Linked DNA regions of Homo sapiens: region 1 is linked to region 2. Evidence: fine-mapped expression QTL. Tissue or cell type: monocytes. Region 2 holds a variant in brackets; the other region holds the start of a gene. All regions are shown on one strand. Distances are from middle to middle.

What was found. PIP is the estimated chance that this variant, and not a neighbour inherited with it, causes the effect.
Region 1: it holds the start of PTPRC, and the variant in region 2 is fine-mapped to the expression of PTPRC in monocytes (Fairfax 2014, PIP 0.92).

What each region holds. Positions count from the first base shown.
Region 1 is chr1:198,635,862-198,644,056 of GRCh38, reverse strand. It overlaps PTPRC (protein tyrosine phosphatase receptor type C), which reads right to left and starts at 5,017. Exons shown (of 33, transcript NM_002838.5): 1 at 4,920-5,017; 2 at 4,716-4,831. The coding sequence starts at 4,788.
Region 2 is chr1:198,681,387-198,689,581 of GRCh38, reverse strand. All of the region lies in intron 2 of PTPRC (protein tyrosine phosphatase receptor type C), which reads right to left. Among named protein-coding and RNA genes, the nearest start is that of PTPRC-AS1, 18 kb to the right of the region's middle. RefSeq lists an enhancer at 7,342-7,912. The variant A/TA (reference allele first, on the strand shown) is at 3,956.

The sequences.
Region 1 (8,195 bases), 46 kb after region 2:
ATGAAACCTTGCCTTTGTGAACATTGTGTATTTACCAAGAGAATGAATCAACCTCAGTACAAATCTCTGCCCCTTACCTACTCAGATTGACATTCATCACCACACTGTCTGTAAAGAAATTATTCCCAGCTCTCTACAAACTTTTGTCGTGCAAATAATGCAACACCTAGGGTGCACCATATTCCATCTGCCCTTGCAAGCAATCCCAGAGCACTAGCATCAGTGTTCAAACCAGCAATTGCCATGACTGGACCTGATCTGTTTGTGTTATCACTCCGCTACATTTGTATTTCCCTCCCATTCCTTGCTTTTTCTCCTATGGGTATGTGTATCTGAAAAATAAAATTGACCCTCCAAATTACATTACCTAGAATGTCCAAAGAGCAGATCAAAGAAAATTTAGGAAAAACATTCTCAAACTATGAACTTTTAGGAAGTCAGGAGGCTCTTTCCAGACGAGAGGTGAGATAAGGAGAGTAAGAAAGGGAGCAAAGAAAAAACAAACAAACAAACAAACAAAAACAAAAAGGCAAGACTGTAAACATCTAGATCCAAAATCAACTTAATTTAATCTGGACAAAATAGTCCTGCTGTCTTCATCCTCCCACTTCGCCTCTGGTTAATTTTTTTATCTCATATTCTCCCTCTTTTTGACTTCCCTCTTTGAAAATTTTCCTTTCCTTTGTCACTACAATATGCAGTTTTATTTTTTTAATCTATGATTTATTCAGTGTCTGGTGAAAAATTAGGTATGGGAACTATGAGTTTATGCCTTTTGTGTCTCCTATACCTGATTTCATGTAGGTTACAATGTCAAGAAATCCACTAATTCACATGTCATCATCATCATCAATCATCATCACAAAAAAGAGCAGATTGAAATGACTTGAAAAATGCCAAGAAAAGGTGATAAAAAGTGTGCAATTCAATGGAAATATTTTGTGGCAAAAGTGACATAAGAGAACATAATAGAAGAAGTAGGATTTGCCCAGAACCTTAAACACCTTGAGAAAGTATAGAGGTGGGTGTTAAAACTACCTCCTGTTTGTTTTCTTTTAATCAATCATAGAAGAAAAAGAAAGAAAAAAGAAAGAAAGAAAGAAAGAAAGAAAGAAAGAAAGAAAGAAAGAAAGAAAGAAAGAAAGAAAGGAAGAAAGAAAGAAAAGAAAAAAGATCCCTTCCCAGCTCCAGGCCTAGCCCCCAGATCATTAGTGGAACCAGTTTCTCTGGCAAAAAAGATTAGAATTTATACCAAAGGCAATGAGAAGAAATCAGTAACCCTTCACTTTTTATTTTACTTTTTAAGCTGTAGATTACATTAAAAAAAGGATGAGACTTCAGACTGATTAAAAAAACTATTACAATTTTACAGGTGAGAAATAATAAAGCCATGAATTAAGATGATGGCAATGGAGGTGTCAAAGCAAGAAGTTATTAGAGATTATTACAAAGCAAAATTTCAGGACTTGGGGAGCATGTTAATGTCTGGATTTAGGAAAGGTAGTAAGTTCCGTGTTTCTGAGGGATGAGTCTAGAGATGGAGAATCAGAGTGATCAACACATAGTAGGCAATGATACGTAACCAAATGGAGAAAAGAGAACACAGGCGAAGGTCTGAAGTTCATGGGAACGCCAAATAGACAAACATGGAGAACTGATAGATAGATAGATAGATAGATAGATAGACAGATAGATAGATTGACTAGTATATATAACCCACAAATATATAACTAGTTTATGTGTGAGTATCTACATAAAGAAATATATGTTCAAGTATATGAACAATGTAGAAACATCTATATTTCTATACTGGTTAATTGTCACTGGTGAGAGGATAGCAAATAGTCCAGAACAAAGAAAGAACTAAGTTCAAGCTAACTACTCTGCCCCTATACTTACTTACACAGAACAAAAGAGAAAAAGATAATATAGGCCCTAGCCGTAGTCTTTCCTGTAACAAAGTACATTTCAAACTTTAGCAATGATAAAGGTCACAGGCAGGTTTTTAGTAGGACATTTTTTTTCAAATTAATAAGTAATTCTAATCACATTCCCAAATCTCTAAATTATGGAGTATTTAGAACTTAATAGGACTGCTTACCAAATTCAATTAAATAATTTTCATTGAATGTCTGTGATGTGCAAGGCACAGTCCATGTTTATAACATGAGATATATATTTTTAATACAGATGGAAAAATGAAGAATTATGTCCAGGAAATGAGTCTTAACTGTTATGACTCATAACAAAACTCATCATATACCTCACATACCATAACTCATATACTCCTAACTGCCATGCTATAGTGTGGTAGATCTGCCTGGCATTACAACTTTATTAGAACCAGAGAACACTCACCTTCACCTGCCTTCTTAAAACCATCATTGTCCCCTAACATTATTTAGAAATTCTAAACAAAGTTTGGCTTCCAGTTGCCATGGCAAAGAGGCACAGAGCAAGAGGATTAGGAAGTCTTGAGTAAAACTGAACCCTGCCTGGTTGTTGCCGTGGCAAAGATTAACTTTGGCCTTGTCCGTGTGTGCATTTTAGATATTAAATAAAATATTTGAATTATGCATAGAGTTACCATTGATGGCTCTCTACATTTGGCTCTATTTCTTTATGCCTTTACAGCATACAATATAAATTTTGTTCCCCAAAAGTTTATTATTTCCTGTAGGCACTAAACTAATTTTAACACGTTAAAATGAAACATAGAATCCAACTCATTTGTTGCTAAAAAAGAAAAATAAATAATTTAAAGCATTAAGAATTTTCCAAATTATACATTAAATCACAAAATGTTTCTTGCAACTTGAAAGGATTATAAACAATATTTGCAGATACAAATGATTATATCTGTATATGTTTTTCCACAAATAAGCATATATCTCAGGGAGTCTACAAATGTCTTTTAGAAAAATGTTTGCTCTCAATATTTATGTGAGCAACTGAAGATAAAGTTGAGTTTTCAAAATAAATTTATGTATATCCATTTATTTGCTATGGTATAAATCATTCAGCAAAGTTGATATAAAGGTTTCTAGACCCCATCATATTATTTCAATTATAAATTCAAAGATGTGTCTTATGGTTAAAAAAACATCCTGTAATAGAATGAGTTGAATTTTTATTCACAAAGGAAATATTTCACACTCTGATTTAAGCATATAATAGGATATTTGGTCTATTCAGGAGGTTGGGAAGTTTGCCTGGAATAAAAAGCAATGGAGCTAGACCTGAAGAAAATAATAGAAGTTAAATGAATATGAAGAGAAGAAAAATATTCTGGCTTACAAAATGTCTCAGTATTTCTTTATGCTCATTTAAAAATGCTTTTCGACATTTCCTGAGTGGGAATTTTAAATGAAAATCTGTTCTGATTTGTGATAATATACATATATCACTTCATTGAGATTATTATTCTTTATAATTTACTTTTTATTATCATAAGCTTTAAAGGGATGGTAACTTGATAAACATTTTCTGTACTAAGACAAATGCTGCAAATATATAGATTTTTAAAAAATTCACCTTTGCAATAAAAAGCAAAACAGCCACAACAACAACAACAAAAATCTTATGTTGTTTTTCTTTCCTCTTTCTTTCCTCTCCAAATAGAAATTGTCAATGTAACATGCTCAAGAGGTAGCTACTTCCCTGACTTTCAGAGGAAAGAAGAACGGTAAAAGTCAAAAAAAGACTTCAAAGTGAATTGTAATAAGCAAGTTGTTTTAAAATACTTTTTATACTTTTTGGAATTTCTACAAAAATTTTATTTTCAATGTCCTTTTAGATACTACATCATAAAGAGAAATATTAAATATTAATTATTAGTTACATTCTATAATCTATTGAAATGTACTCATGATTCATATTGACGCCGCTCAAGAACTATCCATTGAATAGACCATAAATGTGCAAAGATTTCAAACTTTAATAGGCACTGGAAGTCCAACTAGTTGCATTTTCCTACTGAATACAGCATTTGCATGATTTTTAAGAGTTTAAATATTTCTATCTCATCAAGGCTGTAATATTTACCCACCACCCAGGAAGGGCGGTGGCTCCACAAGAATTTCTAAAGCAAAAATGTATTAAAACTATTAACAAGAAACTAAAAACTTGATTTAAAATACATTCTGTGATAAAAATTGCAGAAAGTTAATATTTTACTAAATATCTCAATATATTTTTGAACTATTATATACCCAAGTATTCAATAAAATATGTCAATTAAATTCAAAATTTGAGGAAGCAAACTTCAGGTCTGAAAAGAGGGAGTGGCTTACATACAACCAAAGCTGTTTTATGACTTTTTAAAAGATCAAATTTGTTAAAAGAATAAAAACTCACTTATTTTATCATTAAAAAATTCTCAGGCTTTTATAAATGTGTGTTATTGTCACTTTGGAAGTTAAGTAATAATGTTGCTTTTGTAATATCTTTGAACAGTTGTAAATAAAGATACAGATAGACATTGCTTTCCTTTTAAAATTGTATTTTTTGTCCCGAAACATTTATGTCTTTGTAAACAGAAACAATGTATTCTGTCACACAACTAGCTATGTCTCCCTGAGACAACAATCTTGATGGTTTACAGCAGGCTTCTCACTTCCAGTTACCAACACATTTAAATTATTTTTATGTCTATTTCAAACATTCCTCCAAAAGAGAAAAAATAATTTAAAAAATATTAATATCCTTGTACTTACCTGTCACAAATACTTCTGTGTCCAGAAAGGCAAAGCCAAATGCCAAGAGTTTAAGCCACAAATACATGGTCATATCTGGAAGTCAGCCGTGTCCCTAAGAAACAGCATGCGTCCTTCTGAAAAGCAAAATAATTGTTATCTCTGTAGAAGTTTTTCTCTGTAAAAACGAATCAAAAATGTAAAAGTAAATAAATAAATGCATACTCTCCACTGTTGTCTTATCAGACGAGGAACAATTTCCTCCTCTGTTACCCTAAGAACAAACCACTTGCTAGCTGCATGAACTGCTAGGTGATGATGTCAGATTCGGTTTTACTAACTTCTCCAAAAATACTGTAAGGGTCCTCTTTGCAGGAAGTCAAAAAAGTTGTTCTAAGTCAGTAGAATGGCATTGCACTTCCTTAATTCAAGTAATTACACCAAGTTAGAAAGCCTTTTAAAAGATTTTCCCATCAAGGAAGATGTTTTTAAACCATCCAAATAATGCTCCTTTACAGTATCCATTACCATTTTTTTTAAATTAAATCCCCACAAAATAATCAATAATTTTCTTACTTAAGAGATGACAAACAGATTCAGCATAAGTATAACAAAATGGGTGTTGGCAAGATGACTTAGTAGAAAGTATCAATATTTGACTTACTGAGACGGCCAAATGAATGAAAAAACTACTAATCTGGTTATTTTTGGCAACCCAGTATCATTTACCATTAGGGCATTCAAAACTCAGCAATATGACAGTTTTAGCAGTAAAACCCATTTCTTATGCAAAAGCACTTTCAGACAGCTTAACAGTTTTGCCCCAAATCTTTCACAGATATCCTTGTGAAGCTAGGAGTGGAATCAGAATGTCATTTCTACTATAGTTACAGCAAACCCTGCTTCCAAAAACTAATGTTTCTGTGACTTAAGATGTTCTTGGCGCTACTGATGAGGGAAAGGACAGTGAAAACCAAGAGATACCTTTAACAAAAGTTAACTTGTTTCCTTTTTCTCAGCAATACTTTTTCAACTTTTTTAACAAATAAGACAATGAATTGTATTAACACAATGCTCTTCACCATTCTGATGTTCTTAGTTAAGTCCATCTATTAGGAAAATGCTTACTGGCAAAAAGTATAAATTCAACAATACAATTAGATGAATTGGTTTTATTAATACAATATCTATATGCCTTTAAAAATAAAAGTACACACATGTGCAACTCATTTATTTGAACAATAGATAATGCTTGGGGGACTTTTAGACAGACAGAGCCCTTGTGGTAATTCTGCAAACCCTAGTTTGGAAGCATTATTGTAGGGTTCTTATATTTAAGTAAATAAATCTTTTGATACTTACAAACTTTTTTGTTTTACTCTTACATTGGCTGCTAGGAACTACAGAGCCAAATTTCTATCACACTTTGTGCAAATGGAAATAACCCCACAGCTTAAACTCTAGGTAATAACCTTTTAATAAGATTGTAGTTAAGAATATTATTTTACTATGATTATTATTATATTTAACTTATGGAGCACTTACTATGTGCAGGAACTATGCTTTGCACTTTACATATATTGTATAATTTGTACGATACCCTTGAGCTAGATAATGTTATTATTCCCCATTTTATCTGTGATGTTCAGAGAGGTTAGTTGAGTTGCCTAAGATCTTGCAGCTAGGATGTAGACAAGCTATATTTAGAACCCAAGTCTCCAAGTTTAATTTTGCTTTCCTTACTCACCTTACTATTGCCCTTTATTTTTCTCATCCCTTTTACCAATCTTTTTGTACTATGTAAGTTTATAATACTCGAAAAGATAGACCTTTGAATCAGTGAAAATGAAATTATTCTCTTTTTGCAAATGTATTTTTAAATAAGATAACTGTGCAAGTAAGCACTAATTTTCATGTGGGTAGGCCTAATAAAACATCAGTGTCAGAACTCATGGATTTGAATACTCAGCTCCTCAGCCTATGTCTTAAAATACATTTGCAACAGAAAACTCTTTGGGGATTTGCTTTAAATATCTTTAAGCAAATACTTGTGTTCTGTGAGCTTGCTGTTATGGCAGAATATTTGGCAAAATTAGAGGCCAGGAGAAAAGTGTATATGATCTTTTAAAAGGAAGAAAAGTATATAAAATATACTCTATAACAATGTGAGTTTAGCAGCCTTAAACGGACATTTTAAAAGGGATTTGTGGCTTTAAAAAAATAGTAAGAAGTTAGGAGATTCAATTCCATTTCAGACAGGTGAGAAGACAGATTCTACCCAAGGAATCCAAGATAGATTAGCAACAAATGAGTTGCATTATATGTGTTAATCCAACACATATATAATGTTTTAACATATTCATTGTGTTAAAATTGAGTTTAGTGTCTATAGGAAATACTAGAATTTTAAGCAGCAAAATCTGTACTGTGTATTATAAAGGTGTAAAGACATACAGCTTGAAATACAGAGACATCAGCAGATGAATGTATATACAATTCTGATGGCTCAGAATGGAGACAGTGGCAACCCAGAGGTTTGTTAGCCTGAGGTCCAGGCTGTCAGGAGGGTAGGCAAGAGGGAAGGCCCTAGCAGCTTGTTAGGAGACAGAGCCAGGTTGTCCTTGATGGTATACTACACTAAGCCAGACATCCAGGAAGGACTCCGGGTAGCAGCTTGTCTTTCCACAGGGCATCTGGGGAAATTTCTACTGTATCACATACAGGCCTGGCATCCAAGCCTTCCGCTTGCATCAGCAGAAAACTCTCAAAGAAAACAGGAGGAGTATTTATGACATACTGATGTGATCCACTCTCACTGATTCCCAGAGGGAGGGTGGGCTGGTTGCTGATAAATGGGTATTTTGCAAAGAACAACTGAGTCTAGGAAATGGGCAGGAAGTAACACCAGATTTCATACATAGTAAATACAATGGCACTTGTTGAGTAGCTGAAAACAGTATGTATCCAAAGTCATCTCAAATTTTGATGAAGAAAATTTCAAAATAATCATAGTTAATCAACTTACAATAGATTTTTAAAAGCTTAAAAACTTAATATTTACTTAAATCAATAAAGTCATTTTCCAGATTTTTAAGGCTACCTACAGTAGAGGTTATATAAAGACAGAAACAGATTACAAGTTAACTACAGAGGCAGATGTTACTCATTTGTTCATGCATTCATTCACTCATTCATTCAACAAATACAGAGCAAGTTCCTAATGTAATCCAGTCATTTTACCTGACATGAGGAAAAAATGGTGAGCAAAAACAGGCATGCTTTCTTTCCTATCTACACTTTAGTGGAAGACACAATAATTAATTATCCAGTCATCATGACACTTTCATCACAAAGGCAATACTTCCACACTGTGATTTAAGCATATAATAGGATATTTGGTCTATTCTGGAGGTTGGGAAGTTTTCCTGGAATAAAAAGCAATGGAGCTAGACCTGAAGAAAATAAGTTAAATGAGTATGAGGAGAAGGAAAGTATTCTAGG
Region 2 (8,195 bases):
CATTGGATCAGTTAATACAGAGGAGAAATCAGAAAGCAAATTTGATGACAGAGAAAAGAGAAATCTTAATGTTACCTGCACCACTAATTCCACAGACCCCTATATTCTGTTGTTCTGATTTACTACTTTGTTGTCACCAAAATGTGTAGCACCAACTATAGATAGAGTTTCATAAAAGAAAATTATAATTCATCATCTGTTTACCACAGAAATGAGAAGAAAAATGCTGGGACACTATGTGAAGCTATTTGTTTTTTAACAAAAGAACTGTGAATGCCTGAGTAAATATACTAGAACTGTTTCCAACCAGTACACTATTCATCAGACTACGTATATGTTCCATGTCTCAGAGAGATTAATAAACTTCCAAGTGGTCCAAAGGCAATACGTTTTTTAAAAGAAATACATGATGTATATTATTTTAATCTAACTTCTGAAAAGAAGGACAAGAGGTAAATTACCAAAACGGAGAAGACTGTTTCTAATGATTTACTTTTTTAAAGAATAATTTAGAAATAATATTTTATTGTTATTAATTGTTAATATTTATTGAGTGTTTACTGGGTGCCAGGCACTATACTAAGTCTTTTGCTTATGTTTTCTTTCTTAAGCACCACAAAAACCCTAAGAAGCTTAGAAAAGTCAAGTGTCTTGGCCAAGTTCACAAGGCCAGTCTAGTATATGTGAGCCAGACTTGAACCTGAGCCTGTCTGACTTTACAGGCCATGCTCTCATTCATCAGGCGTCCCCTTTTCCCATCAACTTGTCCTTACAGCCTTTCCTCTTCATATGAAATTTTAAGCATGAGAATTCTTTTACAGAAGGTGTTTATTAAAAACTCATGAGCTAAGTAAAAATGCATCTTAATCATAATTTGGCTGCAAGTAAATTACTAGTAGTGCTACAAATGCTAAAATAACCTTGACCCTAAAAATAGATATGCAGATTAAATCACAATGTGCTGAGTGAATGCTCTATAATGGTACAAACAAATATTAGAGAAAATTTAGAGGTGTGTCAAGTTAATTTATTACAGAATACTATTTTGACAGGAAAGTCAACCAAACTACACTAATATCAAGCACAATTATTAAAATTTACAGACCTTTTGTTTAGATGTTAAGAGGTTTCTGGAGCTAGAGGACAGAATAATGGGCATACATATACATTTTTTTCTGATCTCATCATCGCTCCATATTCAAAATTTCCTCGAATCTTTTCATCTTTAATGCAGCAAAATTTAATATCCTGGAAAACAGTATAATATCTAAAGAGCCAACATTTTCCTTTCTTCTATGTTCATGCTTACTTCCCATAAAGGCCTCTTGAATTGAATATGTGTTTGCTTGTACACTGATTTATCACTGGATATGATTCTAAATTCCTCCACTGAGTGATTTTTAGGTGACACTAAAACATTGTAATCTATGTTTTATTTCATTTTTATATACTATTTCAAATATGTGCGTGCACACACACACAGACACACACACACACACACACCCCACACACCATTTTATCTTTTTAAAAGAAAATTCCAAGACTTCAGCATCACTGTTTAGACTTAGTGTAAGACTCAACTTGCTTGTTCTCATGGTCATAAAATCCCTATAAACAGATTTTTAGTTTTGGTAACACTTTTAGTCAACATGATAAATGACATAAAAATGTTTTCGTGCCTGAAAAAAACACATAGAATCTATTTAAAATAAAAATTTTAAATTAAAAACTACTTTAAAATTTAAGCCAATGCCCCTAAGGAAATAAGGTATGCACTAGAGTGATGCAACTTAAAGCAACATATCAATTTTAATAAGCCATGTGCACTAGATTACATAAATCTATTTTTCAGTCTTTTTAATGTTAAACATTTTACCAGTCTTAAAGTAGGAACACGCTAAATGTGACCTATATAAAATAGCTTAGTTAAAACACCTACGTAACATCTAAAGGACATTCCCCACACCCCGCCCCCCCAGTCATCTAATGATTTTTACATCAACGTTAGCAGAACACTAACAAATACTTTGGTGGAGAATGCCTTTATATATGAAACAAGGTAGGGAGTAGGTGAAGGTACTTAACTATTTAGAGAAAACTATAAAACCAAATATCTGCAATAATTTATTAATTCTCTATCATATTTTAATTCTTCCTAAATTACATGAGCAATGACTTCAATTGTCTGTTGCACTTCATATGTGCAAACATTATTAAACATTACCAAAATCATAGATAGAAGCCACTGTGCTGAATCTTCACTGATAGAAAAAAAAGACCTGATGAGATTGGTTGTGGCCAGGTGCAATGGTTCACACCTGTAATCCCAGAACTTTGGGAGGGAGAGGCAGCTGGATCGCTTGAACCAAGCAATCCAGTCTGGGAAACATGCAAAACCTCGTCTCTACTTAAAATACAAAAATTATCCGGGTAGGGTGGTGCACACCTATAGTCCCAGCTACTTGGGAGGCTACGCCCATGAGTGTGTGTTGAGGCTGTAGTGAGATGTGATGGTGCCACTGTACTCCAGCCTGGGTGACAGGGTGAGACCCTGACTCAAAAACAACAACAACAACAACAACAACAAAAGATTGGTTGTATAACATATTTAACTACTTCATGACCTATCCATTTAGACTGGAGTATATGGTTAAATATTACTGTGCTTGTCCAATGCAAAACAAATGAACTGATGTAGTTACCTAAGTTGTTTTATGTATGTAGACAGCCTTGTACTCTACCCTATTTCCTGTATTACTTAAAAGCAACAATATATTCTTAGTGGAGTCAAATAGATCTGGGAAAAGCAAACAAAATTTTTGCATAAAGTATTTTATAACCAGTGCACAATAAATATTTAATATTTGGAGATTGTTTAATACAAATTACACTACAATATATGTAAACATTCTTTATGAACAATACTGGGAAAGTGTGGAAAATAGGTAAAGCAAAATATGTGACATAGCAATGGAAATTAAGAGGGCACATGTGTAGGTGTGTGACAATAAAGAGAAGGCATCACTATTTCTCAAAGTAAGAACTGCATTGAGCTTTCTCTCAAATTCTATAAACACATCAAATAAATATAAAATAAAACACAGTAATATATCTAGTGTTCCACATATTACAGTTACTACATTCTACACTTTGACTTTTATCTTCTAGGGATGAAATTTTCTACATTTTTTAAAACTTAAATGTCTTGTGTTTTCATTATTTAGTCAAAGGAGTATTTAGTAATATTTCAGTAGGTGGCACCATAGCACTAAAAAACTGTAAATTATCTAAGAGCTCTTTTTCCCATTATAATCCTGTTGTGAATCACCAATGGAATTGACTAGATACATTAAACAGATGAAAATGTAGATAACAGAACACTTGATCTTCAAAGCTGTGTTATTCTAACACATGTATTGTTACTGAATTTACCTTTCCCAATATGTTTCTTTTACAACTCAAAATGTTTAAATGATCACAAATCAAAGTTACCTTGAAGTCACACCCCTAAGTCCCTGATCAGAGATTTCAGCAAAAACTAGGAATCAATTTGAGTGAAAACGGCATTTCAAAAGACATACTTGGGCTTTAAATATCACCCGTTCTCCCTCCCCGCTAAAAAAAAAAGAAAAAAAAATGGGATGCTATTTCCTAGGGAATTTAAACCTGTCTAGTTCTGCAAATCTGGGAAAAGTACAAGGGCAGAAGGGTAAAATAGAATAGATTAAATAAATACTTATTCTCAGCATCTGCCCTAAAATGAATGATAGCATGTTTTGAAGGTTGAGAATGCATACTTGACCTCCATAAACATAAAGCCTGTACAAAAGTGGAAAAAAGCAAATCAAGACAAAAAATAAGGGTCAGCTAAAACAGATATGTATGGCTTTCCTTTCTTAGCAATGCATGATAATAATAAAGTGCACAATAAAAATAAGAGAATTGCACTTTTTTT[A/TA]TGCTAGAAATCTGCTATATGGTCCACAGACAATAAATCTAACAAATCATATTAAATTATTAAGTATTTATGGAGTAAGCACTCTGGGCAGCGACAAGCCAGGTATTATGATTTCAGAGAACCACAGGAAACAGTCTTTTCTACCCTCCATTAGCTTATCAGTAAATATAATAATGATGGCAACAGTTTACTGAAATGTTATGTAGCAGACACTATGCACACCTCTTTATATAATATATATGTATTTTTTTTCTTTTAAGCATCCCAGTAAGCCAATGAGTTAGCATTATTTATCCTTTTTTATAGGGAATGAAACTGGGACCTAAAAGAGTTTAGTAAATTGCTCACAGGCACACACGAGGAAAGTGCTAGATTTGAAATAGTGTCTATTTAATAATTTTCTTATTCTTTATGTAGACGTTATGTTAAAATATTGGGTATATTAATATTATTTTTGGAATCTCATGAGTAAAGGACTTTCTGCTTATCATCAGAAAATAATTCCAAAGATTTCTACTCAGACAGAAGCAAAGGATTTTAGTGATTATTGACATGCAGTTCATTTGATATATAAGGAAACTAAGACTCAGTGAGTGTAGTGCCTTTCTGATTTCATTCAATCTAGTTAAAGCACATGAATTTATGAGCTCCACCAATGTCCAAAGAATTTCAACATCCCTTTATTGAGGCCTTTTATTAAATACAAATGGACATCCAAGAAACACTAGAACAAAGCCTCTAATAAGAAAGAAAGATAGAGCTCAAATAAACAAAAGAGGCACTTGGGAGAATGAGGCAATGCAAGGAGCAAAAGAGAGGATAACCAACTACAATTCATATTTTCAGAAATGAGAAAACATTGCACCCATGAACAAAGAGCAAGAGGTTATAAAAAGCAACATCTCAAGATCAAGAGAAGAAGTCAATAGATACTGGCAAAAATCTTTTTTTTTGTTTTAAAGAAACAGCACTACAATAAAAGATAACATTTAAAAATCACAAAATATCAAGGGAGGGGAGAGTCGTGGGAGCAAAAGACTGTTCTTACTTACTCTAGGCCTTATGGTACTATTTAAACTTTCAAATTATATACACACTTTTAAATAATAATGCAAATAATAAAGAAAAATATCAGTATGTAAAGCAGTATTGAGGATAAAGAAGGCAAATTTTTGTGGCCATGAGAGGAATAAAATCAAATAATTAAAAAATTTTAAAGATAGCAACCATATCTAGCTGTCTCCCAATGACTTATGGTGTCCAATATTTACAATAATGTTTTTTGCTTGTGAATACATATGACTTTGCAAACACACACCTCAAAACTAGGAATGCATTTGTAGGTATTTTATATTTGGTTTAAAACATCATGTTATATATTTCAGGCATGTTGATTAACGAAACAATTAATGACAAAAAAATTAATAAAGGCTACTAGATAACCATTTAAGAACAATCAGTTACACTGCTTTTTTTCTGTCTTAAACTATTTATCTACAAGTCAGGGGGAAAATTTTATCGCTTCCTGTGCAATGATGGTCAAATTGAAGTCTTTGATTTAGATTTGTGTGCCTTTAAATGTCCCATAGTCAAATTTGTTTCAGAAGTAATTCATGCTACATGCCCTTTTGAGATATTTATAAAGTGTGTTAATATATTAAAAGCATAGAAACTTATGTCACTTCGTTTAGCTCAAGATCTCCTAAAAGTATTTGCCACAAACCCATTTTTTTCCCATGGACATACTATAGGACATTTGTACAATGTAACTGCAATGTTTCTGAGAACATAGTTTACAAAATTCTGGCTTGTTATCAGTTATGTATATTTATGTGTGTGTAACCAGTATTATTATCCTGAGGAAGAAAAAATATCAATCCTTTATTTGTATTAATCCTGACTGGGAATTAGATTAAAGGTGACTATTTCTGGGCTCCAGCGCTGGAAAATCTGATTTAGTAGGTTTGTGGGGTAACGTGATCTGTGCACTGGTATTTTCTTAAAGCTCTGATGGTGATTATGATGGAAACAAGGGTTAAGAACAACTGAGAAAGATGCTTCCTTACCCATATTCTCTTTTTAAACATTTTCCAGAATAGGTTTGTTCCCATATTAATTATCTTTTTGCTTCTTATGAAAATGTCTGTTTTCATTTACCTAAATCCAGGGATATATACCTGATTTATGCAATATACTTCAGATAGCAAAAACCATTTAATTATATTAATCCCTTAGTAAGTGTATGTTTTTGTAGCTCTTTGCTTCCTCTAGGATAGGTTACGATCATCATTAAAGAACAAAGAATCATCAAAAGATGTTTGCATAAGTGGTGAAATCTTTTATTAGTGTATTTGGTGCTATCAACAGTGTTTACTATTTAATAAGCGGGTACTATGTGAATGGCACTGTCCTAAATACTGTTACATATTATTTTATCTAATCATTATAGAAATCCTACAAAGTAGATGGTATTCTCTTCTTTTCACAGATGAAAGCTCAAAATCATAAAAACGTGTATGCAAGGCTAAATAAAGAACTTGTAGCAAAATGAGTCTAGATTTAAATGCAGATCTGTCTGACTGTAAAAACCCCCATGCTTGTTCAACTGCATTGCACTGTAAGGAAAAAATATTTAATGCTAAATCCAGTATTTGTGCTAAAGAGCTATTAGGGACTCAAAAATGAGTAAATATTATGTATAACCATCAAAATGGGATTCAGAGTACCACACATTAAAACTTATTGTTAAAAAGTGTAAATTGCTGGACAATGACTACAAAAGGGGTAGATTCTTATTTTTCAGAAAAATGGGAAGAAAAGTGAACAGGCCTATGCCTAACAAAAATGGTAGCATGAACTTGTCTGTCCTTCAGTATTTTTACCCAAATCTTTAAGGAAGGAAAAATAGTAGAACATGCAAAAAAAAGTTATGATTATATTATGTCTGTACTTTGAAACAAAGGAAAACATACAAAAGCCTTTGCTGATCAACCTATACCTTGTAAAAGAAGTGGGGTGAGGGAAAGAATAGGTAAATGAAGCTCCCCATAGAAAATAAACAGTGCTAGGACAGTGAGTGTCTGTGAATTTAATCTAGTTATGTAGAAACGTGTTTACAGCACCAACCACAACCCTTTCTAAATGAGCCAGGAGATGAATTAAAATTGTACTTTTTTTTGTGAACTAACTACAATATAATAAAAAAAAGCAGAAAATAAATGCTAGATTATAGGGAGTCCACCTAATAGAAACTAATCTCCCATCTCACAAACAGAATAAAATGTCTGCTGAGGCTGCACAAAAGCCTCCCACTCCTAAAGCTGAGGACAATAAAAGCAAAGGCTGATAAATGCACTGCTTATTTCTTCTTATTTCCCTTTAATGAAAACTCTGAACAGAAACACTTGGCTTACTTTCAAAATCATTAAAGGAACCCAGGCATAATGGGAAAAGCTACACTTTCAAATAGAAGAGGTTTTCAATGTGTTGTTCTCATAAGACTGCTGTTTGCACAGCTAAAAGCTAACAGCAGTGTCTTTACTGCTCTTGTGGTTTCTTCTCTTCGGTGTACTTCTGTTTTTCTTATTCTGAGTCTTTATAGGAAAGGAAGAGGCGCAGCTCATGCGGTTAAGCACACAGGCGCTACCAAATGGTGCAATAGGTTGCCATAGCACCAGCATAATCAGCCCTATCTCGGGGTTAAAACCACAACTTCTCTAGTTGACGTTGAAGCTGCCTGACTATACATTTAACTGCTACAAAATGCTGAATTTCAGATTGATTTGTGTTTGCTTCAATAAAAATGTATTTCAAAAGTAAGGTTAGTTTTATTATGTGATTTATTTCAGAAGCACTTCATTTTGAAAAGCACTCACAAATGATATTTTAATGACAAAAATAAGTTAAACCTAATATTATATTTAAAAACATAAAAAGTCACCATTGATTTGGCCAGCAACTAAGCTTTATTAATTCATTACATTATGCAACTTGGAGAAAATAGATCACAAAGAAAAAAGTAAGACAAAATGTTTATTTGTAAATAGAACTCACATTCCTTTACCACTAGATAATGAAATGATAAAATATAGTCTAGGCAAGGATATTTCCTATTTGTTCAGCAACACTATCACCACATATGAAATACGACCCTACCAGTAGGAAACATCACATTGCACCCTTTGCAAGCAAATGCACTGAAGTAAGTTGAATGGCTCCTTAAATACACACTTGATAGTCT